Linked DNA regions of Homo sapiens: region 2 is linked to region 1. A link means that fine-mapping ties the variant in region 1 to the plasma level of a protein whose gene starts in the linked region. Region 1 holds a variant in brackets. A gene starts in the other region. All regions are shown on their reverse strands.

Region 1 (15,433 bases):
GACATAATAAACAACTAATAGTAAGTAAAGTGCTTTCCTGAGTTCTGTGAGTCATTCTGGCAAATTGAATCTCGGGGTGTCATGGGCACCCCCGAATTTGTAGCCAAATCAAACAGAAATGTGGCAGCCTGGGGGCCTGGGCCTCGTGACTGACATTTCAGAATTGAATTGAATTGCGGGATACCCAGTTGGTGTTGGCAAGCTGGAGAATTAGTGGTTAGTGTGGGAAAAACCCCAAACAATTTGGTGTCAGAAGAAAAACATCACACTCCTGCGTACAGGTTGATCCATCATGCGCCCTGCCAATTGTACTCCTTACTTATTTCTCAAATCCACTATTTTTCCCTACCTCCACCCCACTACCACCCTCTTCCAATCCCCATTATCTTTAAGCCCCCACCAGGTCTTTCCTCATCCACGCTTGTCTTCTCTAATTCACTCTCCACATTGCCCTTTCATGTAGCTAATATTTGCAAAATGCACATCTGACAAATTAGGTCCTGTCACCCCCTACTTAAAATTCTTCAAGACTTTGCATGGTCTTAGAATAAAGTCCAAACTCCTTCATGTGGCCTGTGAGACCCTATGTGGTTGGCCACAGTCCACTTCTCAAACTCTACCCCTGCCCTGTCCTCCCAGACACACAAAATAAGCTTCCTTGTCCTTCCCCCTTGATAATGCCCATTCATTTTTCTGATCTGAGCTCAATCAACTCTTACACAGGGCAGTTGTCTCCCACTGCCCTGACCAAGTCAGTTCCCCTATTATAGGCTCTGCAGAACATATTATAGTTGCAAATTTTAATTAATTAATGGGTAAATTACTCAGTATTTGTCTTCTCTGCCAGACATGAGGAGGGATCATATCTATTTTTCACTGACCTTATATCTCAGCATCTTTCACAAAGCCCTTATAGTTAGCCCTTGCTAAATATTTAATAGATGGATGAATGAATGAATGAGAAAACATAGCACAGCAGTTAGGGCTGCACTCTGGAATCATCAAATCGGGGTTTGCACTGAGTCTCTGACACAGGCTCTACGACCTGAGGCAAAAATAATAGGTTCTCAAAGTCTCTGTTTTCTCTTTTCTTTCTTTCTTTTTTTTTTTTGGCGGGGGGCAGGGGAACAGGATCTCACTTTTTGCCCAGGCTGGAGGGCAGTGGCACCATCAAGGCTCACTGCAGCCTCAACCTCCTGGGCTCAAGCCATCCTCCCACCTCAGCCTCCCAAGTAGCTGGGACCACAGGCGTGTGCCACCATGTCCGGCTAATTTTTTGTATTTTTTAGTAGAGATGGGGTTTCACCATGTTGCCCAGGCTGGTCTCAAACTCCTGGCCTCAAGTGATCCTCCCACCTTAGCATCCCAAAGTGTTGGGATCACAGGCCTGCACTACCACACTCGTTCCTCTGTTTTCTAATATATAAAGCAGGATTAATGATAGTCCCTGTCTTCAGGATTGTTCCATGGAATAAGCGCAACATTCCATGGCAAGTAATTAGAACAGTGCTTTGCATGCAGTGTATGCTTAATACGTAATAGGTGTTATTATTTCCTCTTCTGTAAAGTGGGGATAATAAAACCTACCTCAAAGCGTTGTTCTGAGGAATTATTTGCTAGTAATCGGGTTCCATTAAGTGCTTATTGAATGTTTTTCTTCCTCTCAAGAGGGAACCAAAGGGATTTTACTTTTTTGAGTGCAGTTCACTTGTGGTTTTTCCCTATTGATTACCCACTAATGTGGCTTCAGGGAAAGGAGTTTTAAAACCAGAGGCAATTAAGCACCAGAAACAACCAAAGAGGGATGACGGAGCCTCTGGGGCCGGTCCAAGACAAAGGCTCCTCTCACCTCTTTGCCATCTGCTGGGACGACAAGGGGTGCCAAGCATTCTTGGGAAGTGGAGCCTTCCTGGGGAAAGAACATGCGTAACTTCGTCCTTGACTGGCTTCCTGGGGAGCCGCTCCATTTTACAGATGGAGAGAAAAAAGCCCAGAGAGGAAGGGATTTCCTCCTAAGCCACACACACGCCCAGCCCACGAGGGGCCGGTCCTCTGACTCAAGCCTCGAGAGTCCAAGTCCAGGCTGTTTCAGCCAAGCCCTGCTGCCTTTCTGCTGAGCATTGGAATGAATCCTGAGCCTGCAGCAATTTATTTGGAAATTTTTAGAAATTTGTTTCATCCAGAATTATACAAAACCAAAGACAGTACAAATTATTCATCGCACAGATTCAGAGGCTGGCCAAGAAAGGGATAATGGCGGCCGTGTGTGGTGGCTCATGTCTGTAATCCCAGCACTTTGGGAGGCCAAGGCGGGCGGATCACGAGGTCAGGAGATCGAGACCATCTTGGCCAAGATGGTGAAACCCCGTCTCTACTAAAAATATATATATATAAATTAGCTGGATATGGTGGCGTGTGCCTGTAGTCCCAGCTACTCAGGAGGCTGAGGCAGGGGAATCACTTGAACCCGGGAGGCGGAGGTTGCAGTGAGCCGACCAAGATCTCACCACTGCACTCCAACCTGGTGATAGAGCAAGACTGTGCCTCAAAAAAAAAAAAATAATTAAATAAATAAAAGAAAGGGATAATGGTTTGTTCAGGATCACCTAGCTGGTTGAGAACGAAAACAATTAGAGTCAAGTCCTCTGGCTGGGCACGGTGGCTCATGCCTCTAATCCCAGAACTTTGGGGAGCCGAGGCAGGCACTGAACTCCAGGCTTGAGCTCAGGAGTTCGGGACCAGCCTGGGTGACATAGCGAAACCCTATCTCTACTGGAAAAAAAAAAAAAAAAACGGAGTCAAGTCCTCTAACCTGGTAAATCTACTAGATATGTATGGCTCTCCCAGGCATGGCATCTCAGCTTCATCAGTATCACTTGTCTGCTTAATCATTGATTCAATTGTTCTATAAACTCCTCTACAGCCTCAGCCTCTCTCTCTCTCTCTTTTTTTTTTTTTTTTTTTTTGGTGCAATTGCATAGAGCCTCCTTTGTACCATGCATGGTTTTAGGCACCAGGGACACAGATGAATGAGGCAAGGTCTGAAGTCTCATGGAGCTCACAGACACTCTTTTCTTTCTCTCAAAAGGCTGCCTGCCAC[G/A]TGCTCTGGGTTATCAGCCATGTTCTTCCTGGATGCTCAACTGCCCCAGTGCCCCTCCCCAAACCAGGCCTAGTACTCAGCCCCTCCTACATGGCCTCTGGGGCTTGACTCCACACTCCATGTGGACTGCATTCCAGTGTCAGAGCCTTCATCCTAAGACCCACCGCCCTGGCATCTTCTCCTTCATGGGCTCCTTGATTTCCAGTGCTTTAAGCACAGGTCTTCTCCTGCCTTTAGACACTGCTTTACCTGGTTTCCATGGTTCTTATCCAGCCAGTGGTGTGCTGCTAACTTTATAGTAACTAGCTATTCATGGGGGAAGAAAACCCAACCAGCCAATCAACCAAACTAACAAAACTTTGATTTGTAGTGGTTGCCAATTTCCTTGGTGTAAATACTCCCACCATGGCTGATGACAAGCTACCAACATGACATCACTGGATGTGGAGTTGTGAAGAGATACAATCATCTCTGGTGTCAACCGAATCCAGCCCTACCCCATCACCTCCCCTCACACCCCCTCAGAGCTGTGCCATAGAATGCAGTGTGGATCTTGGGAAAGTGATGAGCTTTGGAGTCAGATAGATGGAATTTGAAGCCTAGCTTTTCTGATTTCTACACTAGTAGTGCAGCCAGGGGAACATTATTCTACTTTTCTGAGCCTCAGTTTCTTCATCTGTGATATGGAGAAAGCAGTACCAAGATGTATGTGGGCTTTCAGCACTGTTCTCCTCCCTACCTTTATTCCTTTGCTCATGCTGTTACCCTGGCCTGGGATGCCTTCTATTCCACTTACCCAGATTCTTAAGATTCTTCTCAAGACCTGCTTCCTCCATGAAGTCTTCCCTGATTATTCCAGTCCTTTGAGGACTAAACTCTGATTTTTTTTTTTTTTATCTTGCCCAAATTCCTACCTAAGGAGCCTAGGGAGTCATGCCCTACAAACCATAAAGTCTTATCGGAGGAGGTTTTAATTTTAACCCTATATAGCGTGGTCTGCTTTCTAACCTGACTCTAGCATAACATCACATAATAAGGGAGGAAATAAAAATATTTTAACCCCAAATATATTTCCCTGCCATATCTTGAAATTGCTCCACAAGTTTGTCTCTTGTGGGAAAAGGCCACATTCTATAGAGAATCCCCTTCCCCCCATTTTTTTCTTTTTCTTTCCGGACTCAGGAGATAATCAACAAAGAGCCAGGCACCCTTATAAGTCTGATAAGAAACATTTTATAACCTACTCCCTCTGAAGTCTGCCCTGAGAACTTCCTCTGCACAATAAAACTTGGTCTCCACAACCCTTTATCTTAACCTAAACATTCCCTTTCTATTGATCCCAGGTCTTCAGATAAACTCAATTAATTATCAACTGGAAAAATTTAAAATTTACCTATAGCCTGGAAGCCCCTGCTTTGAGCTGTCCTGCCTTTCTGAACCAAACCAATGTACATCTTAAATGTATTGATTGATGTCTCGTGTCTCCCAAAAATGTATAAAACCAAACTGTGCCCTGATCACCTTGGGCACGTGTTCTCAGGGTCTCCTGAGGGCTGTGTCACAGGCCATGGTCGCTCATAGAGTCTGACTCTTTTCGTTGACACCTTGATGCTCTCTCCCTTCTCCAAACCCCTGTGGCAAGCAAGATGTTTGCTTACCTGGCTCAGCATTTACACCAACTTGTATGCGATCTAGTCATTTTGAGACAGGGTCCCACTCTGTTGCCCAAGCTGGAGTGCAGTGGTGTGATCTCCGTCTTCTGGGCCCAAGCGATTCCCCTGCCTCAGTCTCCTGAGTAGCTGGGATTACAGGTGTGCGCCACCATGCCTGGCTAATTTTTGTATTTTTTTAGTAGAGACAAGGTTTCACCATGTTGCCCAGGCTGGTCTCGAACTCCTGACCTCAAGTGATCCTCCTGCCTCAGCCTCCCAAAGTGCTGGGATTACGGGTGTGAACCACTGTGCCCAGCCCTCTGGGCATATTCTTGTCTCTGAGCTGACTGCTTGTCTCATCCTGTCTCTTAGATGACTACTGCATCCCTCAGCCCCAACTCCAATTCCTACTGACCGATTAATGATTAATAACCTGAAGATGCAATATGGAGCTATCCATCAATGCATTCTGTTAGTATTCAATAAGTTCCTACAATGCGTCAGGCACTGAAAATACAATGATGAATTAAACAGATATAGTAGTTATAATAATTATATTAATAATAATAATTGCTACCATTATTGAGCAGTTACTATGTGCCAGCCATTCTGCTAAGCACTTCACAAATTTTGGCTTTTTTAGTCCTTATAACAATGTTCTAGGGAGTTAGATACTATTATTATACCCTCTTTCCAGAAATAAATATGAAGCTTATCGGGGTTAAGTAACTTGCCCAAGGCCAGAGCCAGGATTCAAACTCTCAGTTTTGAGCTCTCAACAACTATTCCATTCTGCCTGTCGCTATGCTCTCCTGTCTCTCATGGAATTTATTTTTCAAAGCATTTTTATGTCTCTCTGATCCTCACAACAGTTCTATAAGGTGAGTGGAACAGGTAAGTTACCCCATTTTGCAGAAAAGAAAACTGAGGCTCACATCCTGGCTAACACGGTGAAACCCTGTCTCTACTAAAAATACAAAAAAATTAGCCAGCCGTGGTGGCGGGCACCTGTAGTCCCAGCTACTCGGGAGGCTGAGGGAGGAGAATGGTGTGAACCCGGGAGGTGGAGCTTGCAGTGAGCCAAGATCACGCCATTGCACTCCAGCCTGAGTGACAGAGCGAGACTCTACCTCAAAAACAAAAAAAAAAAAAAAAGAAAAAGAAAACTGAGGCTCAGAGAGCCAAAGCCTAGTCTCTTGTCCCTTGTGGTTTGCTAAAGTCCTATTACAGTCAGAGCTGTGGTTCCTGACTTCCAGCTGGGCCAAGGAGGTGCTTCAGGGCTAAGTGTGCCGGGATGTGCAGACAAGAAGGAATAGAAGACGACCCTATCTTCTGGACCACAGGCCAATGCTGGGACCGCAGAAGCATAGGCAGGCACCTACCTTATGCACCCAATCCTTGCAGTCATGGTCTTGCATGCACTTGTCCAGTGCTCCAGGTGATAGCACCAACACAAAGTTGCGGGCACCCATGACACTCTGGATGAGTTTGTCCTCGAACTTGCCTGCTTCCAGCTTCTCCACATCAATGAAGACACTGAAGCCATGCAGCTGCAGGTGCACCTTCAGGAGACTGCAAGTAAGTCCTGTGTCAGTGCCACAGCCTTGTCCCCACGCCCCGTCGCTGCCCGCCCGCCCCTCCTCACCTGGCCAGCTGGGAACCTGAGTTCCGGCGGTAGCTGATGAAGACATCTGGAGTGTCCCCACTGGGTTTGCCACCAGTACAGGGCAGCGGGGAGTGTAGCATTTCTGAAGTGGGCAATAGGCAGCATGGTGAAGGTGGCCCCTCCGCATCACTCACTGTCAGGTATATCATCCCTTGTGGACTTAGTCCCCAGTCCACCAAGCCCTCTCAGCCCAGCCTGGGGAGGGTGGCCTGCCCCAAAAAGGAGAAATGGGGCCTCCAGGAGGAAGGTCATGTTATTGTTGGGTTCCTCTTAGGAGGCAGGCACTGTGTTCTAGGGACATTGATATGCATGCACTTCCAGCCCTGACCTCTCTCTGGAACTCCAGACCTGAACAGCCAGCTGCCCACAATCACTCCAAATTCAACACACCCCAAATCTCCCCCTCATTCCTTCTTCCCTATTTCCCACCAAAGCCAGACACCTGGGTATCAGCCTCAACTCCTGCCTCCCATTTAATTTATTCAACAAATACATCCTAAGCACTTGCTGTGTGCCAGGACTGTCTTCAGTGCTTGAGATTCAGCAGTGAGTAAAACAGACAGCACTCTGCTCCTCTGGAGCCACGCTCAGTACTAAGCGCCAGGCACCGCATTCTGAGGATTCTACCTACTAAACATACTGGACTCCAGCCTCCGGGCCCTTCCCTGGCTCAGGTTTCCAATGCCAGCCTCCTCAATGGCCTCCCCAAACCCAGCTAGAATTGCCCAGTCTAGGCCAGGGCAGTGGCCCACACCTGTAATCCCAGCACTGTGGGGGGCCAAGGTGGGTGGATCACTTGAGGCCAGGAGTTCGAGACCAGCCTGGCCAATATGGTGAAACCCTGTCTTTACAAAAAATTATCCAGGCATGGTGGCACATGTCTGTAATCTAGCTACTTGGGAGGCTGAGGCACGAGAATCACTTGAACCCAGGAGGCAGAGGTTGCAGTGAGCCAAGAATGCACCACCGCACTCTAGCCTGGGCGACAGAGTGAGACTCTGACTAAAAAAAAAAAAAAAGAAAAGAAAAGAAAAGAAAAGAATTGCCCAGTGTAGTCCATTTGCCACAGCTACCAGAACATCTTTCTAAAATCCAAATCTGAGCATGTCATTCCTCCCACTTAAAAACTATGCATGGCTCCCTACTCACTATACAAACTATTTTTTGTAAGCTATTTTTGCCCTAGGATTTTCCTGTTGTTTAAAAATGAAATCTTGCGCTGGGTGCGGTGGCCCACGCCCGTAATCTCAACACTTTGGGAGGCTAAGTTGGGAAGATTGCTTGAGGCCAGGAGTTTGAGAACAGCCTGGGCAACATAGTGAAACCCTGTCTCCACAAAAAATAAAAAAATTAGCTGGGTGTGGTGTTGCGCACCTGTGGTCCCAGCTACTTGGGAGGTGAGGTGGGAGAATCACTTGAGCCCGGGAGGTTGAGGCTTCAGTGGGTTGTGATTGCGCCACTGCACTCCAGCCTAGGTGACAGAATGAGACCTTGTCTCAAATTAATTAATTATAATAAAAATGAAATCTTGAAGTTTTAATGGGAGCTGCAATGTAAAAATAATAAAAGCCAACCTGCTTTGGTTGAAGCATAAGAATGCAGCCAAAGCTCAGTCCCTTGTGTCTTGTGGGTGCTTAGTCTGTAATTGCTGAATGAAAGGATAAAATGAAAAGAATTCATCTTCTTATAATATTTAGACATAACCCTCATAGACAACATTTGTTTGTTTATGAAGCAGAAAGACAAGGGCTCAAGTCCCAGTTTTGCCATCTAATGACTTTTATGACTGTGGGAAATGTATTTGAATTCTTTAAATGTTAGTTTCATTATCTTTAAAAGGAACACCCATGATGGAAATATTCTATATCTTTAATGATGATGGTGGGGGTGGGGGGTCACACAGATGTCTTTCAAAACTCCTCAAACTGATACTTTTTTTCTTTTTTGAGATAGGGTCTCACTCCTGCTGCCTAGGCTGGATGGAGTGTAGTGACCTGATCACAGTTCACTGCGGCCTTAACTTCCTGGGCTCAGGTGATCCTCCCACCTCAGCCTCCCAAGTAGCTGGGACTACAGGTATGCGCCACCACACCTAGCTAATTTTTTGTATTTTTTTGTGCTTTTAGTGGAGATGGGCTTTCACCATGTTGCCCAGGTTGGTCTCAAACTCCTGGACTTGAGCGATCCGCCTGCCTTGGCCTCCCAAAGTCCTAGAATTACAGGCATGAGCCACGGTGCCCGGCCCTCAAACTGGACACTTACTCCTCTTTTTATTCTTTCAAGAGTTCTTTAAGGTTGATTTTAAAAACTGAACACTCATTGCATAGAATCAATATAGAGACTGATGGGATAATATCTTAAAAACCAAACAGAGTACCTTGTAATTGACAATAAAGATTAGCTAAGTAGTAAATTAGTAAGTAAAAATAAATTAGTAAATAAGGAGGGTGGCTAGAGGCCTAGAATTCACTCTAAACCACCTCTAGACCCAAATTTTGTAAGCTGTTGGCCAATAGGATAACACACATACGCACACCCTTCCCGCCTACACCCCACTGCATGGACTCTCCATAGGCCGCTGCCTCTGCCTGGGCTGCCCTTCCTGTTGCCACCCCTCCCCGCCAGTGCACCTCTCAAGACATGGTCAGGCATCCTGTCCTCTCTGAAATCTAGACCTGGGTGGATGGGGTGGGCTGGGCTTCCTCTGTGCTCCCACTGGAGACCTGGGTAGCTTCCTGCCGGGGCCGCTTGCCTGTTTAATAGCCTCCTTCCTCCCACCGCCTACCCACCTCAGACTGGGAACTTCTTGAGGTAAAGTGCAACGTATTCATCTTTACATCCTCAGAGCCCAGTGTGACCCACGTTTGTGCTCAATCAATCCACGGCGAGGCTGGAAGGCTCCACCCCGTGTCTCCCCTCACCATTCCAGGGCCGTGGCTGGGGCTGGGGCTGGGGCGGGGTCCCGGGTGAGCGGGCTGACCTCTGGCCGCCGTGAGGATGCGGGCGCGGTGCACGCCCAGGTGGATGCCGCAGTCTTCCAGCAGCTGCTGCTCAGACACGCGGTGCAGCAGGGAGCGGTCCAGGCCGCAGCTGACCAGGCCGTAGGTGTACTGGCGGAAGCGCGGGTCCAGGCTGCCCAGCCAGTCCGCCAGGTTGCTGCGGTCGCACGTAGAATAGTTGGCGAAGGTCTTGAGCTCCGTGAGCTCCCTAAAGAACCTGCACCCCACGGAGGAGAAGACGCTGAGGTCCAGACTCGGACGGGCTGTGGGCGGAGGGGGAGCTTATTTAGACCTAGCTGGGGTCCGGCGGGCAGGAGGCTCCGTACCTCTTGCGGGTGATGCCCGATTTCATGCCCAGGTCGGTCTGGAGTTCCTCCTCCGTGAGCCGCAGAAGCAGGTCGCCATCCACCTGCTGCTCCTGGGGGAGGAGTCGGGTGTCAGGAAGGGCTTCGCTACTCCGCCCTTGGACCTCGAGCACAAGATGCAAGGGAAGGAACTGGAGATGGCGTGGAGGAGGCGGATGGGACCTAGATCAGAGCCGAGTGACCCTAACGGTGGCTGCGTACAGGCTCCCCGCCCCCAAAAGCGACCCTGGCGCCGCGGGATTGCGAGGCGGGGAGGGAACGCAGTCCCTGTGCACAGGGCGCCCGCTCTGACTCGGGGGAGGCGTATCCCACGCGACTCTACCCGGAAGCTCTCGCAGTACTTGGAGAAACCGATCTGCTGCAGCCACGTCTGAACCTCGGCCTCCTTCCAGCTGGGCACGGAGGGCAGGATGGGCCGTGGCACCTCCTCGCCCAGCAGGCGCAGCGCGCGCTTGGCCAGCGCCGACTTAGTGCCATTGGTAGAGTAGGAAACCAGGCGTTTCAGGCTCTGGATGGCGCCGATGTCGCTGAACACCTAGGGAGGGAGTGGGGAGAGGGCTGTAGGTCCCACCAGCTCTCCAGGTGCTCCCACACGTGCCCAGTCCCTCTCCTTGTCTCTTCTCACAACCCAAAGTCTCTCCATCTGCCCTGGCCCCACCTTCAGCCACTAAGTCATGGGGTCCTGCGGATTCCCCCTCCTGAAGTTCTCTCAATTCTTGACCAGGTCCTGACTCGGATGGGTTGGGGGCGGAGGGGCCTATCCCTCCTTTATATCCCTTCTACAGCATCCACCGGCCCTGGAATAAAGTTGAGCTCTCAGCATAGCGCCAGGCAGGGCACAGTGCAGCTGCCCATCACTCCCAGTTCACCTCACCTTCCACTAACTTACACTTCACACACACACGCACATGCACACATTCCAAGGCTTTCACACCTCTGGGTCTTGGCCCACTATGTTTCCAAACCCTTAGTTCTTCCAGTCTGCTCATGGGAATCCTCCCACTCCACGGAAATCCTACTCATCCACCAGAATCCAAATTGATTAGCACCTCCTTCATGCAGCCTGCTTTGATTCCCCCACATCCTGGCCCACACCTCCAATGAGGTCTTATACCACACTCTGAATGCCACTGTCACTGGTTGACGATGCAACTTCCACTGGAGTATAAGCTGAGGACATGTCTTAGTCACTACTGGAAACCTGCATCTGGCACGATGAAGGACACAGAGTGGGACTCGAGATGTCTTTGTTGAACTACACTCACTTGGCCTCGATGGGAAAGGGGTGACAGGCTGGTGATCATGGTTGCGGCCCAGATCCAATCCTTGGGGTCCTCACTCCCTACTTCCTTTAAGACCCTTTTCCCTAAGCAAAATGACCTGCCTTGTAGAGCAGGTCCTCCCTGACCCAGCTCTGGAGTGCAGAGAGAAGAATCAGAAGTTCCTAGAACACTGGATGTTGAAAGAGGCCCCAGAGACCCCCCTAACATAGCAGTCTCCTTTTTCTTTTTCTTTTTTGAGATGGAGCCTCACTTTGTAGCCCAGGCTGGAGTGCAGTGGTGCGATTCCAGCTCACTGTAACCTCTGCCTCCCAGGTTCCTGTGATTCTTCTGCCTCAGCCTCCCGAGTAGCTGGGATTACAGGCACCTGCCACCATGCCCAGCTAATTTTTGTATTTTTAGTAGGGACAGAGTTTCACCATGTTGTCCAGGCTGGTCTTGAACTCCTGACCTCAAGTGATCCACCTGCCTCGGCCTCCCAAAGTGCTGGGATTACAGGCATGAACCACCTCACCCAGCCAGCAGTCTCTTTTTGATCTGCAGGGACATACATGATGGGTGACAATCATCTGTAAGACACACTCCTTTGAGCACCCCCAGATGACAGCTGGGGTACAGACAAGGTGGGTCATGGGGTATGCACCACATCTCTGTGCACCAGCTATCACCAACCTCCAAGCCTCCACAAAAAAATGCAAAGAAGAGAGAGTGATATTGTAGGGAGAATCTTCAACCTGTAACATTTTAAAAACAAAGCCCAGCTGGGGGATTGTGGTGCGTGCTTGTAGTCCCAGCTACTTGGGAGGCTGAGGCAGAGAGGATCGCTTGGAGCCTGAGAGTTTGATGCCAGCCTAGGCAATATAGTAGATCTCTGTTTCCAAAAAGTACAATCCACAAACTTGTGGTGCTAAAACTATCCCACATCTAGGGTAAGAACTGCTGCTGTGGTCCAATTTACTGAATTTTCCAGAAGATAAAAATGAGGCCCAGATAGAGGCCTAGAGAGGGGAAGCCAGGTGCTCAAGGTCACACAGCAAGTTAAAGCAGTGGGCAAAGGTCACTGGTGGATTAGGCCCTGGACATGAGGACCCCTTGGGACTCCGATGGGGGTTATCTGGCTGACACACTGATGTCCTGTCCCAAGCCGCAAGCCTCTGTCTCTAACAGCCATCTTGACTCCAGACTCAAAAGGCTACACTACCCACTGAAGCTCCCCAGCTGGGCATCTCTCAGGCATCTCAAACTCCATATGTCCTGCAGAAGTCACTTTCTTCCCCTTCCCCACTTCCACTTGTCTCTCACCCAGTTCACTTTATTCATTGCCTATGTTCAGGGCCAGGAGTCATCCTCAGCTCCTCTTTCTCCTTCTCCCAGCCACCAAGTGCTAACTCCATCTCTTAAACATCTCTTGAATCTGCTCTCTGCCACTGGCATCGCTGTCTCCCCCTTCCCCCAACGCCCACCCCTGCAAGTCATAGTTTTTTATTGGGTTGCCTTGCCTCCGTCCTCACCCTTGCCAAGCCCCTTTCCACACAGCAGCTAGGATGATCTTTGTAAAACACAAGTGTCCCCTTGCTTAAAAGCTTCTTAGTGTCTTCCTCTTGCCCCCAAAACCAAGTCCAAACTTCGGGTTTGCCTTCAACGCCAAAATGACTGGCCCGCTCCTCCTTTGTCTTGCTTCATCTAATTCTGATGTGTATTTCAAGACCCGGTTGAATGTGACTTCCTCTGGGAAACCTTCCCAAAGGCTCTCTAACCCCTGATCCACCCAACCCCACATCTGCACCCACCTTGGTCTTGCCTTGCAGGCTCTTGATGGCAGCCTCGGCGCAGAGGTAGAAAGCCCCGATGCACTGCGCCTCCAAGCGGTTAGAGTCGAGCAACGGCACGAGGCGCTGCAGGTCGTCGGGCCCGCGGCCCTGGCTTGTGTCGCTGGCGTCCACCAGACAGCGGGCGAAGCGGCCAGGGTCCAGCGAGGCCACAAGCGGCTCCACGAGCGCCAGCGTGCCCGAGCGCTCCACCTCGCGCTCCACCTCCTTGTTAGTCGCCAACACCGCTACTGCGAGGCAGGCGTGCAGCCGAAGCAGCTCGTCCTCCTTGGAGAAGGCGAGCGGGAAGAGCCACTCGGCTGCGCGCTTCTCTACCATGCGTCGCTGCACCGCCTGGCCCCCGTGCAGCGCGCAGTTGCCCAGCGCCAGCGCGCAGTGGCGCAGCAGCGCGGGGTCCGTGCGGCGGCACCAATACAGCACCGCGTCCAGGCCGCCGGCCGCCACCAGCCTCTGGCATGTCTCCTCCGAATGCTTGAACATGTGCTCCAAGATGCCTGCCACGCTCCGCGCCAGCTCTACGGGTTCGCGTTCCTTCGCCAGGTTCAGGATCACGCCCAGCCCAATGCGCGCCACGCGGTCTCTGCCCAGTGAAAGTGGAAGGGGACAGTGGAATTGCCGCAGCTTGGGGAGCTTGGCTTGCCCGTTTGGGGCCTGGTCACTAACCCTCTCTGGGCCTCACCGGCCTCATATAGGGGAGAGCATTCCCCTCCCTGCTCCCCACCCTCATCTCCTCCCCTGGGAGGACCCCACTTCTCGGATTCTAAGGGTGCTCTATTCTGGCCATAGCCGTTCTCCCCCTCCCTCCTCCCCTTGAGAGGCAGTATGTGTGGTGGCTAAGAGCCTCAGCTCAGGAGCAGATCCCCTGGGTCCTGGTTTCTTCTCAGCCCGTTTTCTAACTGGGATAAAGGAGACCTTTGGGCAGCTTCCTTTATCTCTCTACCTTGCTTTCCTTATCTCATAAATAGAAAATAGAAATACCTGCCTCATAGGATTATTATCAGGACTAATGAGATAAGCCTTATAGAGTGCTTGGCACAATGCCTGGCACATGGTAAAAACTCAACAAATATTAACTTGTCCTAATTTGAAGTGTCACTTGAAGCACACCACTCTTAGCCTTGCCTTTTCCTCACTCCATGGCCCATGACCGGGGCATATCTATTCATTCATTCAACAGATGCTTCCTGAGGACGTCCCCTGTGCCAGCCACTGCACTAGGGGCTGAGGTTTAACAGAGACTGGCCAGAGCTTATCCTCAGGGCGATGGAGGAAGACATAGACAAGAAAACAATGAGTGAACCAGATCGTAGTGATAGGGCCTTGGCGCTAGCAAAACAGGATGATGTAATGGCGTGTGCCTGGAGGAGGGGTATGTGGGAAGAGGTGACATCTAAGCTTAATGTGAAGAAATCCCTGTGTGCAAATATCTGGGAGGAGCATAACAGGCAGAGAGAGGAGCAAGGATGAAGGCCTGAGGGCAGAGGAGCTGACGTGTTTGAGGAATAGAAAGAATGCCAGAGGTATTGCGATGTCTAAAACCAAAAAGGGAAAATATAAAACCAGGCTGGGCAAGGTGGCTCATGCCTGTAGAATGCTTGGCACAATGCCTGGCACATGGAGGCCAAGGTGGGAGGCTCACTTGAGACCATCCTGGACAACAAAGTGAGACCCTGTGTCAAAAGAAAAAAAAAAAAAAGAGAGAGAGAGACAGAAAAAAAAAAAAAAGAAAAGAAAAAAATCAATGAGGGGTTTATATGTAGAATATATCAGCAAATATTCAAATCAAGAAGAAAAAGGCAACAAATTCAAAAGAAAATGGGCAAAGGACATAAACAGGCAATTGACAAGAGGAAATCCAAAATTTGAAAAACCAGATAAAGAGATGCTCTAACTCATTAGTAATCAGAGAAATGAAAATTAAAACAATAGCTATCGCTACCTGAAATGTTCTTCAACAAAATCCGCTTCATGGTTCGTCATTCCAATGTCTGCTCAAATGTTACTTCCTTCCAATCATCCAATCTAAAGGCTTTTCCCCATCACTTTCTAACTCATTACCTTATTTTATTGTCTTCAGGGCATTTAATATCTGATATTATATTAATAGTCTACTTGTTTGTTAGTTCCATAGACCAGAAACCTTATCTGTCATTTTCTTTCTTAAAATGATCTAGGCCGGGTGCGGTGGCTCACGCCTGTAATCCCAGCACTTTGGGAGGCCGAGGCGGGTGGATGACAAGGTCAGGAGCTCGAGACCATCCTGGCTAACATGGTGAAACCCTGTCCCTACTAAAAATACAAAAAATTAGCCGGGCGTGGTGGCGGGTGCCTGTAGTCCTAGCTGCTCAGGAGGCTGAGGCAGGAAACTGGTGTGAACCCAGGAGGCGGAGCTTGCAGTGAGCCAAGATGGCACCACTGCACTCCAGCCTGGGCAACAGAGCGAGACTCCGTCTCAAAAAAAAAAAAAAAAAAAAAAAAAAAAAGATCTAAATGGAGAAAATTACCCTTTCCTAGAGTTTCTTCACCTAAATCATTTTATTTT
Region 2 (15,433 bases), not on the chromosome of region 1:
GTGGGAGGGGAGGCGCTTCCAGATCTCCTGACACAAAGGGCTGCCCACCTCCCTGGTCCTTTACCCGAACCTTCAGGAGGCAGACGACACACACACTAGCCAGCCACTCTCTCCAAGGCAAGGGGAGGGGGACAAAAAGCAATTTTGAGATTTGTACAGTGCTTGCCAGGTCCTTCAAAAATGACTACCGGCCGCCCATGGCTCTTGCACAGCGGGTGGGAGGAAGAGTCCTTGTAATCCACCTCTCCCAAGGAACTCCTGCGCGAGGTTTCAGATTCCCCGCCTGCAGGCTATGGCTGACTTCCCCGTATCCTGTGTGACGTGGGATGTGTGGCTTCGCGCAGGTAAGGCTGGAATACAGGTGCCTGGAGGGACACCCAGAGCTGCCCAGGCACTTCCCGGCGGCTGCTTCCTTTGCACTTTGCACTTACAGGTGCACTTATAATAAAAACACCCTCCCTTCCACGCTCCCCTGGGCCCTCCCATCTCTCCTTCCTCTTCCACGCTCTCCTGGCTGTTGAATGTTTTCCACTGAAGGAGTCTAGTCTGTCCACCTAGGGGGCTCTCCCTCCCTCGGTCCAGGGCATTCGCGGCTCACAGGTCAGCTCGGGCAGAACCGCCCTGACCACCTATGAGCTCCTCGGGACACCACCCCAATGCCAGGGTGAATCGTCCTTACACCCTCAGTCCTGTCCGAGCGGCCTGATCCTACCTGTTTCCCAGAAACTGCTACGCGAAGCTTCCCCGCCGGGCTCATCCAGGGCGGAGGGGTCTGTCCCTGACGCAGACTGGGGGCGGGTCCGCAAAAGCGGGCTGAATGAATGAACGCAGCAGGGCTGGGGCCCCCTGGGGCTACAGGCCCCTGCTATTTGGCCCGCCCTGTGGCCCAAAACACTGGACTTGCCCCCCACCGGTCAGCGGAGCCCAGACATCCAGGGAGCCCTAATGGAGCCTGGACAGGAAGGCAGCAGGAGGTGGGACCCGGGGTGCGAGTGACCCCGAGGCCGTCCTCCGGAGCGCAGCGCGCCCGCGTGGGGGAGGCCCGCCTACAGTCGGTGATCCCCGGCCGCCCCCGCCAGCGCCCCGGCCCGCCGCTTACCATGCACCGCGCGCTCCGCCACACCCACGGAGACGAGTGCCCTTTTCCGGGGAGCAGGCGGCAGCCGGTCTTTTGGGCTCCCCCGCCCCGGCCGGCGCCACCCCGGCCTCCACCCGCGGGATACGACCCCACGATTCCCTAGGGCCTGGGCTCCGCCCCATGCACGTGGCGTCACAGGCTGGGCGGGGGGGCGCACCCAGCCGCGCATGCGCAGGCGGGAGAGGAGGTGGGGGTCGGGGGACCCAGTTGCGCAGGCGCGGGCGGAGTATGGGTGCTCAGCTGCGTAGGCGCGATGGCCTTCTTTTCTTTCTGCAGGTGGCCTTGCGGTTTTCTCCAGTCCACAGCCGGGCTGGCGTCGGCCCAGAGAGGGGGGCTCGGCAGTCTGGTTCCCCGAGCGTCTCATGGCGGGCCCTCGCCAGATTCAAGGGGTTCCCTTGGCCAGTTTCCTTACGGCGCGGCGGAGCTGGCCCTCGTCGTCCCTGGTAGGGGGCAGCCTCACAGCCTGGACCGGCCTGTGCAATTTCCCCCATCCCTCCACGTCTACATTTTATTTTTTTCTTTTTCTTTTTTTAGGACAATGCATGATGGAAATGCAGCCACATCATAGCAGGCAGGTTCATGAAATCTGCCCTCCTCCCACCGTTTCTTGACCCCATTTTCTTATTTTTTTTTTTAACAGGTTCTCACCCAGGCTGGAGTGCAGTGATGTGGTCTCAGCTCACTGCAACCTCTGCCTCCCGGGTTCAAGCGATTCTGTTGCCTCAGCTTCCTGAGTAGCTGGGATTACAGGTGTGCGCCACCACGCCTGGCTAATTTTTGTACCTTTAGTAGTGACGAGGTTTCGCCCTGTTGGTCAGGCTGGTCTCGAACTCCTGACCTAAGGTGATCCGCCTGCCTCGGCCTCCCAAAGTGCTGGGTCTATAGGCATAAGCCACCACACCCGGCCCTTGACCCCATTTTCTGTCTTCCTAGAAATCACCAAGGTTGCAACTCCTGACTGTCCTGGCTCACAGGCTCCAGCTTACTTAAGGACCCCACGGTGGGGGCTGCCCACTTGCACACCTATGCTAGGCGCCCTCATTCCCGCAAGGGCCAGAGCCCCTTCCCGGCCCATGGCGTCTGGCCAAGGAGGTGTGGGTGCGCCCCAGCCAGGCCTGGTCCTAGAGGACGGCCCCACCTGCGCACTGGGGCATCTGGGAGAGCTATTAGTGGAAGAAGCCCAGGTTCCTGAAGCACCAAGTGGGCAAGAGTTTATTTTCAGGATGGGACGCTTTTGAGGGTGAATAAGTGCTAGCTGTATGGGATGCGGGGACAGTACACAGGCCCGGCCTGGCAGCCGGGCAATGCGGTGCCTGTTGGAAGGTCGCCCACAAGCACCTGGTTGGACACTGCCACTGAGATTTGGTTATTACAGAGGTTAGCCTATGCGGGCCTTCACTGATGGACCTTGAAGTGTTTCCCAGTTGCTTTGGGTTAGGAATAATGTGACTGGATCCCGTGGATTGTCTTTGTGCATGCATGTGGGTATATCTGTCAGAAATATTCTTAGAGGTGGAATTGGCTATGGTGGGATATGTCCTTTAAAATAATATATTAGCCAAACGTGGCTAAATTGCCCCCCTTAGACACTGTACTAATTTACACTCTGGCAAATAATGTGTAAGACTGTGGGTTTCCACACATCTTCACCAGTGGGGTCTTTCCAAACTTTTGGATCTTTCCCAATCCAATAATGACAAAACTATATCTCATGGTTTTAATTTACACTTCCTAGTATTTTGAGATCCTGTCGTGAAGTGGTGATGGCCCTGTTTCTGCCTGCTGCACTTGGCAACATGTGTTATCACTTCCTTTCTTTTCACCACTTTTTACTCTTAGAGTTTCTAGAATTTGTGAAAGTAAAATCTTTTTGCTGGCATGGGCTTTTGTGTGTATTATACACTGCTTGGAAAGGTCTTGCACCACATCTTCCCTTCGTAGATTGTTTCTCAATGTTTAATACTCAGCTCAAATGTCACCTCCTCAGACCATTTTATCTAGAATGGCCTCCTCTAGTTATTCTCTGTCACCTTTTATGTTATTTCCTTCATAGCACTCATCACACTGTAACCACCCAACAGCTTCTTCTTGCCTGTCGCCCAGATAGAGCCAATTTTTCAAGATGGGAATTGCAATAAAGAGTTCGATACACATAGAGCTGGCTAACCAGGAGAGCAGAGGCTTATTACTCCTCAAATCAGCCTCTCCTCAAATTCGGAGTCTAAGGAATTTTTTGGGGGGGGTTTGTTTTTGAGACAGTGTCTTGCTTTGTTGTCCAGGCTGGAGTGCAGTGGTGCAGTCTAGGCTTACTGCAACCTCCACCTCCTGTTCAAGCGATTCTCATGCCTCAGCCTTACAAGTAGCTGGGATTACAAGCGCACACCACCATGCCCAGCTAATTATTTGTATTTTTAGTAGAGACGGGGTTTCACCGTGTTGGCCAGGCTGGTCTCGAACTCCTGCTCTCAAGTGATTTGCCCTCCTTGGCCTCCCAAAGTGCTGGGATTGTGCCAGTCTGGAGGCTAGGGTTTTTAAAAGATAGTTTAGCAGTCAGGGGGCTAGGGAATGGTGAGTGCTGATTGGTTGGGTTAGGGATGAAATCCTGAAGAGATGAAGCTTTCGTCTTGCTCTGGGTTAGTTCCTGGGTTGGGGTCACAAGACGAGATAGCCAGTTTACCAGTCTGGGTGGCTAGTCCATCACAATGTGGGGTCTGAAAAATACCTTGAACACCAATCTTATGTTATATAATAGTAATATTATCTATTGGAGCAATTATGGAGGTTAGGAATCTTGTGGCTTCGGGCTGCATGACTCCTAAGCCATAATTTTTTTTTTTTTTTTTTTTTGAGATGAAGTCTTGCTCTTGTCCCCCAGGCTGGAGTGCAATGGTGTGATCTCGGCTCGCTGCAACCTCTGCCTCCCGGGTTCAAGCAATTATCCTGCCTCAGCCTCCTGAGTAGCTGGGATTACAGGCACCTGCCACCACGCCCGGCTAATTTTTATATTTTTAGTAGAGACAGGGTTTCACCATGTTGGCCAGGCTGGTCTTGAACTACTGACCTCAGGTGATCTGCCCACCCTGGCCTCCCAAAGTGCTGGGATTACAGGTGTGAGCCATCGCGCCCGGCCCATAAATTTTAATCTTGTGGCTAATTTGTTAGTTTCACAAAGGTGGTCTGGTCCCCAAGCAAGAAGGAGGTTTGTTTCAGGGGGGGGCTGTTATATTTGGTTTAAAGTGAAATTATAAACTAAGTTTCTCCACAGATTTGTTTGGCCTATGCCCAGGAATGTGCAAAGGCAGATTGGAGGTTAGAAGATGGAGTCGGTTAGGCCAGCTTTCTTTCACTGTTGTAATTTTCCTATGTCATATTTTTCTTATTGTCATAATTTTTGCAAAGACACAACACCCGTCATTACTTGTTTGCTGACTTGTTTATTGGTAAATTCTTTGTTCCACTACTGAAATGAAGCTCCATGAGAACAAATAAGTTGGTCTGTCCTGCTCACTGCTGCATGTCTGGCACTCTGTCTAGAACATGGTAGGTGCCTGTAGCATACATTATTGGTGCTAATGTCCCTTGCCTGCCTCTGCCGTCAGCTCTCTGATTGTTGTGGAGAGTTCCCCTGAATGCTGCCACCTCAAGCATCTCGTTGCTGTCCTCTTTAGGGCTTATCTTACGACTTTCTCCGGAAGCCTTGGGAGCAGGCGCAGCCTGGAATTCAGGGAAATTTAACATCCCCGGGGCAACTGCAGGGCAGTTTGGGTGGCCTTGGACAGACCCAGTCCCCTTTTTACCATGTAGTTCTCAGGAATAACTGCAGAATGTGCTAGGATTGCAGCATCTTGAGATAAGGGAGAACTGGCTGAACAGCCCAAGGTCAGTTCCAGTCTCCTGCTGAAAATAGGATGTCCTTCAACACTGCCCAGCAAATCACATTACCCTGGGATGTTAAACCCAGGGCAGGCTGCTCTCTGGCATTCCTCGTCTGTGGTGCAAGTGGGGCATGCCCAGTTGAGACTCCATTTGCCCTGAGCAGATTTCCTGAGCCTCAGGCAACCAGCTTGCAATGAATGCTCCTCTTGTCCCTTGCTGCCTGTCTGTAAGTAATAAATTTGCTTCATATAACTTATTGAGTATGAATGCGTTCTCTCTCACTGGACACAGACATGTTGGTAACCAATGCACAGTGAACCTCCTTCACAGCAACCCTTAATTAACTGGGGATATATACCTCAGCCTTCTGTCCCCAGAGGACCAATTCTGAGTCCTCAGTAGAAGTGAGCCTCAGTGACCCTTAGTGGTGATCAGCTCAGTAATGCCCCCTTGGGTTGGTCCTCCGATCTTTCTCGGTTCTCTCTCTCTCTCTCTCTCCTGCTTCTGGGAATCACCTCCCAGGTCAACTACCTGCATCTAAGCTCTTGACTCAAACTGCCTTTGGGTAAACTCAAATGAAGTCAACATATAAAATATTTCTTGAAGAAATGGATGGATTGATGAGGGTGCTTCTAATGTTTTCACTTGTCAGCCAGAAGCAGCTCAGCCCTGCAGGCAGAAGGTGAAGGAAGCCAATTGGCACCCGCCCTAGGAATGCAGGAGCAGATAACTGAGACATGGGCTCCAGCAGAACATGTATGCAAGTGTTCTGACAGCAGGGGGGAGTGCCTGGCCCTGCTTTTTGGGGGTGAGAATGTTTTAGAAGAGGTTGGTGAGTTACCAAGCTGCCTCAATTTACCTAACTTGAGTAATAGTGGAGGAAGCCCTCTATTGTGTGTGGCTTGCTCACATGTGTCCACCTACTCACAAAAGTCCAGGAGGACAGCTGCAAAGCTGTCTGCTCAGTGAAGGAACAGAACATGGACTGTGCAGTGTCTCTGTAGCAGAGGCTGCCAGGCCTCCTGCCTGTGTCTGTCCCACTGTGTGCTCCCGTGACTCTCCACAGCAGGGCCTTCTTTTGGCAGAGGAAGTGCCAGGAGGTAATGCTTCTGAGAGCAGTTTCAGCCCATGTCAGGTGCAAAGACCCTGGCTCCCTTTCCACTCAGGACAACTCTCCGGCATGTCTACTTGGCATTGAACACAGTGGTCCAGAGCGGTAACCCACACTGGCTTTCCTCCCTTCCCTGTCTCACTGCCCCACTCCTCTACTGGTTTTTCCTGGTGTCACCTCCTAAATAAACTACTTGCACTCAAATCATTCTTTAGAATTTGTTTTGGAAGAATTCAACCTAAGATACCATCACTCATAGGTCATTTGTTAATAATATCAAACAAAACATCTTAGCCACTGCTCTGATTTCTTCCTTTGGTTCCCTGAAATCTATAACCACAAATCACTGCTTTCTCTACCAAATATTTTTCCTGTAACTCACCAAAAAAGTCAGATCTTCCCTGCTCATGGCTAGCCTTCCATTTTCCAAAATCTACTACAAACAAGAAAAAATGTGAGGGAAACCCTACTCTTCCCCAAGAGAACTTGGCATTTATGATTCCTGCCTGCCACATGGGCCATTGTGTGGTCTCTTTTAGCTTCCCGATGGATGATCCAACAGATGTCATCTTGCACTGTAGTGATAGTCTTGTTGGGACCACATGAAGTGCAGCTGTAAAACAGGTAATACTGTTCTTGGCAATTGGTCGACTGTCCTGGTAGGGGGAGACTGGTGTGAACAGATTGTCCCATTTAGAGTAGCTGTTAATGGACTGTCTTCTCTCCATGAGGGCCTTTAGCATTTTACATTGTATAGGTTGTCGTCTACCAGATTAAGAAAATGTTCTTCTATTTCTAGTTTAAGAGTTTTAAAAAATCATTAATGAATGTTCAGTTTTATTTTGTGCATTTCCTTCATCTATACATGATATTATTATTTTTCTCCACTAATTTTCTTTTTTGTTTGAGATGGAGTTTCGCTCTGTCACCCAGGCTGGAGTGCAGTGGCATGATCTTGGCTCACTGCAACCTCCACCTCCCTGGTTCAAGCAATTCCCCTGCCTCAGCCTCCCAAGTAGCTGGGATTACAGGCACACGCTGGCATGCCCAGCTAATTCTTTTGTATTTTTAGTAGAGACGGGGTTTCACCATGTTGGCCAGACTGGTCTCGAACTCCTGACCTCAGGCAATCCACCTGCCTCAACCTTCCAAAGTGCTGGGATTACAGGCGTGAGCCACCGCGCCGGCCCACTAATTTGTTAATATGATAAGTTCTAACGTTGAATCATTCCCGCATTCCCAAATAAGCATACTTTTAAAATACATTGCTGGATTTGACTTGCTAACATTGTGTTTAGGTTCTTTGCTCCTACATTCACAAAAAGATTGGCTTCTAATGTTCTTTCTAATATAGTACTTGTTTAGAAACTATCAAGATTAAATTAGCCTTACAGAATGAGTTGGAGATTTTCTGCCTTTAAATCTTCTAAATGGGTTTAAGTTTTGAAGTTTCTATTTCTTGAATATTTGATGGAATATTTCTGTTTTCTGTGTGAAATATTTTAAACTGCTGATTCTATTTCTAATCAAGCTTTCTACTTCTTTCGCAGGCAGTTTTGGCATCTTTCTAAAGGAATCATCACATTTCACCTAAGTTTTCAGTGTTACTGGTATAACATTATTCACATCTTCTTAGCATTTGCAGCGATAGCCTCCATTTCACTCATAATAATTAATTTGTAAATTTTCCTTTTTTTCTTGGTCAGCATCTCCAGAAATGCCTAAGTTTTATTACTTCTCTTCCCCAAGAGCTAACTTTTGGCTTTGTGGAACTCCTCTGTATCTTTGTTTAATATTTTTAAATTTATTTCATCTTTATTATTTCTTTCTTTGTACTTAGAGTGTGTTGTTTTTTAAAATTTTCTAGTTTAAGCTGAACACATATTAATTTTTAGCCTATCTTCTTTTTTTAAATTAAAGACTAAAACTTTATTATTCTTATTTAAAATAAATGAAGCAAAAGAAGTTACAAGAGAACTTATGTCTAACCAAGAGGCAGGTGGGTGAGTGGGAAGGGAGGCTGTTCTCTGCTCACTGCAATGCTGCACATCATGGTGGAGAGTAGGTCATGCTGTGAGAAACAAACTCACTGGTCCAAACCCAAAGTTTGGGCTCAGAGACCCAGAGAACAGTGGAAGCGAGACTTTAATGACAATCTTGCAAGATCGGGTGTCTGATGGGCAGGCACACCCAGTACAGTTTCAAAAGCAATTTATCCCCTAGTGTGCAGGTCCCTCCCTTGGTTCCTCATAGGCTGAGTACTATGGGGTCACAGTCTTCCTGGACATTGCCTATTGGTTGTTGGGTAGGGGTTTTAGGCATTTTCTTTAGGATTGTTCTGCTGCATTTTGTTGCAGCCATAATACATTGCAATCCTAGTTAGCTCAAGGGCTCTTCAAGTACTTGACTTATGACCTAAGTATCTGGGCAGGCTGATAAGAACAGACAAAGTGAGCTATTTTGCAAGCTAGTAAACTTTCATCTTAGACTAAACTCCTTTGGTTTGGGTGAGGGCAACTAAGGCAGTGGGGTAGGGTGGAGGGTGGGGAGGCGACAAGCAGGCATTGGCTATCCAAGCAGGGGCCTAGTGTATCCTGTTTCTTCTGTAGTTTGCTGACCTAAACCAATTCAAGGCACTTTGTCTTGGAAATGGACCACTGTATATATTATTTCCTTCATGCTCAGTACAGATAGCTCTCTCAGGGTTATTGTTAACATTCAAGGGGTGATAAAACAAATGCTTCCTGCAGCCAATTCCATTATCTAAGAATCCAAGTCAAATTTTGTTTTGTTTTGTTGAGAAAGGGCATTGCAAAGGTTCAAAAAAATGAAGTCCAAATAGCACTGTATCATCAAGCATTTGCCTTTTTAAAGAATGTATGTATATTTTACAGCCCAGCACCTCACGCTCAGGAAGGGTGTTTCTGAAGACTGATAAAGCCCCTTCAGTGAATGGCGCCAGGGCACAGCTGTCCACGACAAAGTGAGGGTTAGTAACTGCAGCGAGGAAGCCACATCAGAGGCCTCCTGCCTTCAGCATGGGATAGACAGGATTGCGGAGAAGGGAGGAGTTCAGGTGAAGTTTAAAATGAAGCCGTTTCTGACAGGCTGAAAGCAGGGCTGTGGGTCACAGGGTGACACATCACACTGGGCTGAGAGGCTGACTTGGGGGCCCGAGCTCAAGACAAATGCACCATGTTGTATCTGGAAGCCCCTTATCTGAGGCTGTGAGCCAAGGTGAGAGCTCCAGGCTGCTTCTCTGTGTGGAGTGGCCTGCATGGCTGAGCATCTGCAGGCGACAGGATTCCAGACAGCAAGCTTTCTCAGGGCGGAGAAGTGGAGTACGAGATTTCTCAGCACAGAGGCTGAGGGAGCTGCCTCAGGCTGGCTATCTTTGTTCCTTAGCCCTGCTCTCCTATTACCTGGGGCCTGCCCCTCCTCCCACCTATCTCCTGGCTCCCAGTCTCCCAGGCTCCAGAATGCTTGGGCCAAGGTAGCTAGGTAACCAGAAGACACTCACCCTTGGTGCACTGGAAACAGTAACACCAGAGTGTCCTCCACATGACCCCAGAACTATGACAAGGTCCCCCTCAAAAACCATCCCTACTAGGGAGCCCCAAGCCAGGCTGCCCAGTGGGAGCTATGTGCTGCTGTCTTACTCGAAGTCAACTTTCAGCCTATCTTATAAGAAATGCAGTTAGAGCTTTGCATTTCCTATAAGCACCCTTGTAGCTCTGTCCCACACATTTGGCTGTATTGTATTTTTGTAATTGTCAGTTTGGAACATTTTCTAAAGTCCACTATTACAGTGTTTCTCTGTCCATGTGTTATTTAGAAATATTTTTGCTCTCTCCATTCCAAGATGGCCAGATAAGAATAGCTCCAGTCTGCAGCTCCCAGCATGATCCACGCAGAAGATGGGTGATTTCTGCATTTCCAACTGAGGTACCTGGTTCTTCTCATTGGGACTGGTTGGACAGTGGGTGCAGCCCACAGAGGGCGAGCCAAAGCAGGGTGGGGCATTGCCTCACCTGGGAACAACAAGGGGTTGGGGGATTTCCCTTTCCTAGCCAAAGGAAGCCGTGACAGACTGTACCTGGAAAAACGGGACACTCTCCCCCAAATACTGTGCTTTTCCAAAGGTCTTAGCAAATGGCACACCAGGAGATTATATCCCGCACATGGCTCGGTGGATCCCACGCCTATGGAGTCTTGCTCACTGCTAGTGCAGCAGTCTGAGATCAACCTGTGAGGCAGCAGCCTAGCAGGGGAAGGGGCGTCTGCCATTGCTGCAGCTTGAGTAGGTAAACAAAGCGGCTGGGGAAGCTTGAACTGGGCAGAGCCCACTGCAGCTCAGCAAGGCCTGCTGCCTTTGTAGTCTCTACTGCTGGGGGCAGGGCATAGCAGAACAAAAGGCAGCAGAAACTTCTGCAGACTTAAACATCCCTGTCTGACAGCTCTGAAGAGAGCAGTGGTTCTCCCAGCATGGTGTTTGAGCTCTGAGAATGAACAGACTGACTCCTCAAGTGGGTCTCTCACCCCCGTGTAGCCTGACTGGGAGACATCTCCCAGTAGGGGCCAACTGACATCTCATACAGGTGGGTGCCCCTCTGGGATGAAGCTTCCAGAGGAAGGATCAGGCAGCAATATTTACTGTTCTGCAATATTTGCTGTTTTGCAGCCTCCGCTGGTGATACCCAGGCAAACAGGGTCTGGCATGGACCTTCAGCAAACTCCAACCGACCTGCAGCTGAGGGACCTGTTAGAAGGAAAACTAACAAACAGAAAGGAATAGCATCAACATCAACAGAAAGGACATCCACACCAAAACCCCATCTGTAGGTCACTAACATCAAAGACCAAAGAGAGATAAAACCACAAAGGTGGGGAGAAACCAGAGCAGAAAAGCTGAAAATTCTAAAAACCAGAGCACCTCTTCTCCTTCAAAGGATCGCAGCTCCTCACCAGCAATGGAACAAAGCTGGATGGAGAATGATTTTGATGAGCTGAAGGCTTCAGAAGGTTGGTAATAACAAACTTCTCTGAGCTAAAGGAGGAGGATGTTTGAAACCATTACAAGGAAGCTAAACACCTTGAAAAAAGATTAGACGAAGGGCTAACTAGAATAAGCAGTGTAGAGAAGACCTTAAATGACGTGATGGAGCTGAAAACCATGGCATGAGAACTATGTGTTGCATGCACAAGTTTCAATAGCCAATTCGATCAAGTGGAACAAAGGGTATCAGTGATTGATGATCAAATTAATGAAATAAAGGGTGAAGAGAAGTTTAGAGAAAAAAGAGTAAAAAGAAATGAACAAAGCCTCCAAGAAATACAAGACTACGTGAAAAGACCAAATCTACATTTGATTGGTATACCTGAAAGTGATGGGGAGAATGGAACCAAGTTGGAAAACACTCTTCAGGATATTATCCAGGAGAACTTCCCCAACCTAGCAAGGCAGGTCAACATTCAAATTCAGGAAATACAGAGAACACCACAAAGATACTCCTTGAGAAGAGCAGCCTCAAGACACATAATCATCAGATTCACCAAGGTTGAAATGAAGGAAAAAATGTTAAGGCCAGCCAGAGAGAAAGGTCGGGTTACCCACAAAGGGAAGCCCATCAGATTAACAGGAGATCTCTCAGCAGAAACTCTACAAGCCAGAAGAGAGTGGGGGCCGATATTTAACATTCTTAAAGAAAAGAATTTTCAACCCAGAATCACATATCCAGCCAAACTAAGTTTCATAAGTGAAGGAGAAATAAAATCCTTTACAGACAAGCAAATGCTGAGAGATTTTGTCACCACCAGGCCTACCTTACAAGAGCTCCTGAAAGAAGCACTAAACATGGAAAGGAACAACCAGTACCAGCCACTGCAAAATCATGCCAAATTGTAAAGACCATCGATGCTAGGAAGAAACTATATCAACTAACGGGCAAAATAACCAGTTAACATCATAATGACAGGATCAAATTCACATATAATAATATTAACCTTAAAAGTAAATGGGCTAAATGCGCGAATTAAAAGACACAGACTGGCAAATTGGATAAAGAGTCAAGACCCATTAGTGTGCTGTATTCAGGAGACCCATCTCATGTGCAGAGACACACATAGGCTCAAAATAAAGGGATGGAGGGAGATCTACCAAGCAAATTGAAAGCAAAAAAAAAAAGCAGGGGTTGTAATCCTAGTCTCTGATGAAACAGACTTTAAACCAACAAAAGATCAAAAGAGACAAGGAAGGCCATTACGTAATGGTAAAGAGATCAATGCAACAAGAAGAGCTAACTATCCTAAATATATATGCAACAATACAGGAGCACCCAGATTCATACAGCAAGTCCTTAGAGACCTACAAAGAGACTTGGACTCCCACACAATAATAATGGGAGACTTTAACACCCACTGTCAATATTAGACAGATTAACAAGACAGAAGGTTAACAAGGATATCCAGGACTTGAACTCAGCTCTGCACCAAGCAGACCTAATAGACATCTACAGAACTCTCCACCCCAAATCAACAGAATATACATTCTTCTCAACACCACATAGCACTTATTCCAAAATTGACCACACAGTTGGAAGTAAAGCACTCCTCAGCAAATGTAAAAGAAAAGAAATCAGAACAAACTGTCTATCAGACCACAGTGCAATCAAATTAGAACTCAGGATTAAGAAACTTACTCAAAACCGCACAACTACATGGAAACTGAACAACCTGCTCCTGAGTGACTACTGGGTAAATAAAGAAATGAAGGCAGAAATAAAGATGTTCTTTGAAACCAATGAGAACAAAGACACAACATACCAGAATCTCCAGGACACATTTAAAGCAATGTGTAGAGGGAAATTTATAGCACTAAATGCCCACAAGAGAAAGCAGGAAAGAACTAAAATCAACACCTTAACATCACAATTAAAAGAACTAGAGAAGCAAGAGCAAACAAATTCAAAAGCTAGCAGAAAGCAAGAAATAACTAAGATCAGAGCAGAACTGAAGGAGATAGAGACACAAAAAACCCTTCAAAAAATCAATGAATCCAGGAGCGGGTTTTTTGAAAAGATCAACAAAACTGATAGATCACTAGCAAGATTAACAAAGAAGAAAAGAGAGAAGAATCAAATAGACGCAATAAAAAGTGATAAAGGGGATATTACTACTGATCCCACAGAAATACAAACTATCATCAGAGAATACTATAAACACCTCTATGCAAATAAACTAGAAAATCTAGAAGAAATGGATAAATTCCTGGATACATACACCATCCCAAGACTAAACCAGGAAGAAGTTGAATCTCTGAGTAGACCAATAACAGGCTGTGAAATTGAGGCACTAATTAATAGCCTACCAACCAAAAAAAGTCCAGGAACAGATGGATTCAAGGCTGAATTCTAACAGAGGGACAAAGAGGAGCTGCTACCCTTCCTTTTGAAACTATTCCAATCAATAGAAAAAGAGGGAATCCTCCGTAACTCATTTTATGAGGCCAGCATCATCCTGATACCAAAGCCTGGCAGAGACACAACAAAAAACAGAGAATTTTAGACCAATATCCCTGATGAATGTAGATGTGAAAATCATCAATAAAATACTGGCAAACCAAATCCAGCAGCACATCAAAAAGCTTATCCTCCATGATAAAGTCAGCTTCATACCTGGAATGCAAGGCTGGTTCAACATATGCAAATCAATAAACATAATCCATCACATAAATAGAACCAATGACAAAAACCACGTGATTATCTCAATAGGTGCAGAAAAGGCCTTCAACAAAATTCAACAGTGCTTCATGCCAAAAACTCTCAGTAAACTAGGTATTGATGGAGCGTATCTCAAAATAATAAGAGCTATTTTTGACAAACCCACAGCCAATATCATACTGAGTGGGCAAAAACTGGAAGCATTCCCTTTGAAAACTGGCACAAGACAGGGATGCCCTCTCTCACCACTCCTATTCAACATAGTGTTGGAAGTTCTGGCCAGGGCAATCAGGCAAGAGAAAGAAATAAAGGGTATTCAGTGAGGAAAAGAGGAAGTCAAATTGTCCCTGTTTGCAGATGACATGATGGTATATTTAGAAAACCCCATTGTCTCAGCCCAAAATCTCCTTAAGCTCATAAGCAACTTCAGCAAAGTCTCAGGATACAAAATCAATGTGCAAAAATCACAAGCATTCCTATACACCAATAAACAGACAAACAGAGAGCCAAATCATGAGTGAAGTCCCATTGACAGTTACTACAAAGAGAATAAAAAACCTAGGAATCCAACTTATAAGGGATATGAAGGACCTCTTCAAGGAGAACTACAAACCACTGCTCAAAGAAATAAAAGAGGACAAATGGAAGAACTTTCCATGCTCATGGATAGAAATAATCAATATAATGAAAATGGCTATACTGCCCAAGGTAATTTATAGATTCAATGCCATCCCCATCAAGCTACCAATGACTTTCTTCACAGAATTGGAAAAAACTAAAGTTCATATGGAACCAAAAAAGAGCCTGCATAGCCAAGAGAATACTAAGCAAAAAGAACAAAGCTGGAGGCATCACACTACCTGACTTCAAACTATACTACAGGGCTACAGTAACCAAAACAGCATGGTACTGGTACCAAAACAGAGATATAGATCAATGGAACAGAACAGAGGCCTCAGAAATAACACCACACATCTACAGCCATATGATCTTTGACAAACCTGACAAAAACAAGAAATGGGGAAAAGATTCTCTATTTAATAAATGGTGCTGGGAAAACTGGCTAGCCATATGTAGAAAGCTGAAACTGGGTCCCTTCCTTACACCTTATACAAAAAATTAATTCAAGATGGATTAAAGACTTAAATGTTAGACCTAAAACCATAAAAACCCTAGAAGAAAACCTAGGCAATACCATTCAGGACATAGGCATGGGCAAGGACTTCATGACTAAAACACCAAAAGCAATGACAACAAAAGCCAAAATTGACAAATGGGATCTAATTAAACTAAAGAGCTTCTGCACAGCAAAAGAAACTATTATCAGAGTGAACAGGCAACCTACAAAATGGGAGAAAATTTTTGTAATCTACCCATCTGACATATGGCTAATATCCAGAATCTACAAATAACTTAAACAAATTTACAAGAATAAAAACAAACTTATCAAAAAGTGGGCAAAGGATATGAACAGACACTTCTCAAAAGAAGACATTTATGCAACCAACAGACACATGAAAAAATGCTCATCATCACTGGTCATCAGAGAAATGCAAATCAAAACCACAATGAGATAACATCTCACACCTG

Alleles and levels. Positions count from the first base shown, and alleles are read on the strand shown. Strength reflects both the effect of a copy and how common the allele is.
In carriers of allele G in region 1, the plasma level of the protein whose gene starts at base 1,255 in region 2 tends to be higher than with A alone (strong association).

The links. PIP is the posterior inclusion probability: the model's chance that the variant is causal. Protein levels are from antibody-based Olink assays in UK Biobank. Linkage for the fine-mapping came from a reference panel and not from the study's own genotypes, which makes the PIPs less certain.
Region 2: it holds the start of ENTPD6, and the variant in region 1 is fine-mapped to the plasma level of the ENTPD6 protein (UK Biobank, PIP above 0.99).

Annotation. Positions count from the first base shown.
Region 1 is chr17:28,379,241-28,394,673 of GRCh38, reverse strand. SARM1 (sterile alpha and TIR motif containing 1) reads right to left here. Exons shown (of 9, transcript NM_015077.4): 2 at 12,853-13,471; 3 at 10,105-10,317; 4 at 9,744-9,835; 5 at 9,399-9,634; 6 at 6,398-6,500; 7 at 6,135-6,324. SLC46A1 (solute carrier family 46 member 1) reads left to right here. Exons shown (of 5, transcript NM_080669.6): 5 at 1-32. Among named protein-coding and RNA genes, the nearest start is that of SARM1, 15 kb to the right of the region's middle. RefSeq lists an enhancer at 9,658-9,727 and a silencer at 14,418-14,618. The variant G/A (reference allele first, on the strand shown) is at 3,101.
Region 2 is chr20:25,181,534-25,196,966 of GRCh38, reverse strand. It overlaps ENTPD6 (ectonucleoside triphosphate diphosphohydrolase 6), which reads right to left and starts at 1,255. Exons shown (of 15, transcript NM_001247.5): 1 at 1,100-1,255. LOC101926889 (a long non-coding RNA gene) reads left to right here and starts at 75. Exons shown (of 6, transcript NR_109994.1): 1 at 75-344; 2 at 6,665-6,749; 3 at 9,020-9,114; 4 at 9,988-10,070; 5 at 10,268-10,425; 6 at 10,807-12,295. RefSeq lists enhancers at 110-259, 640-709, 1,560-1,799 and a silencer at 1,000-1,419.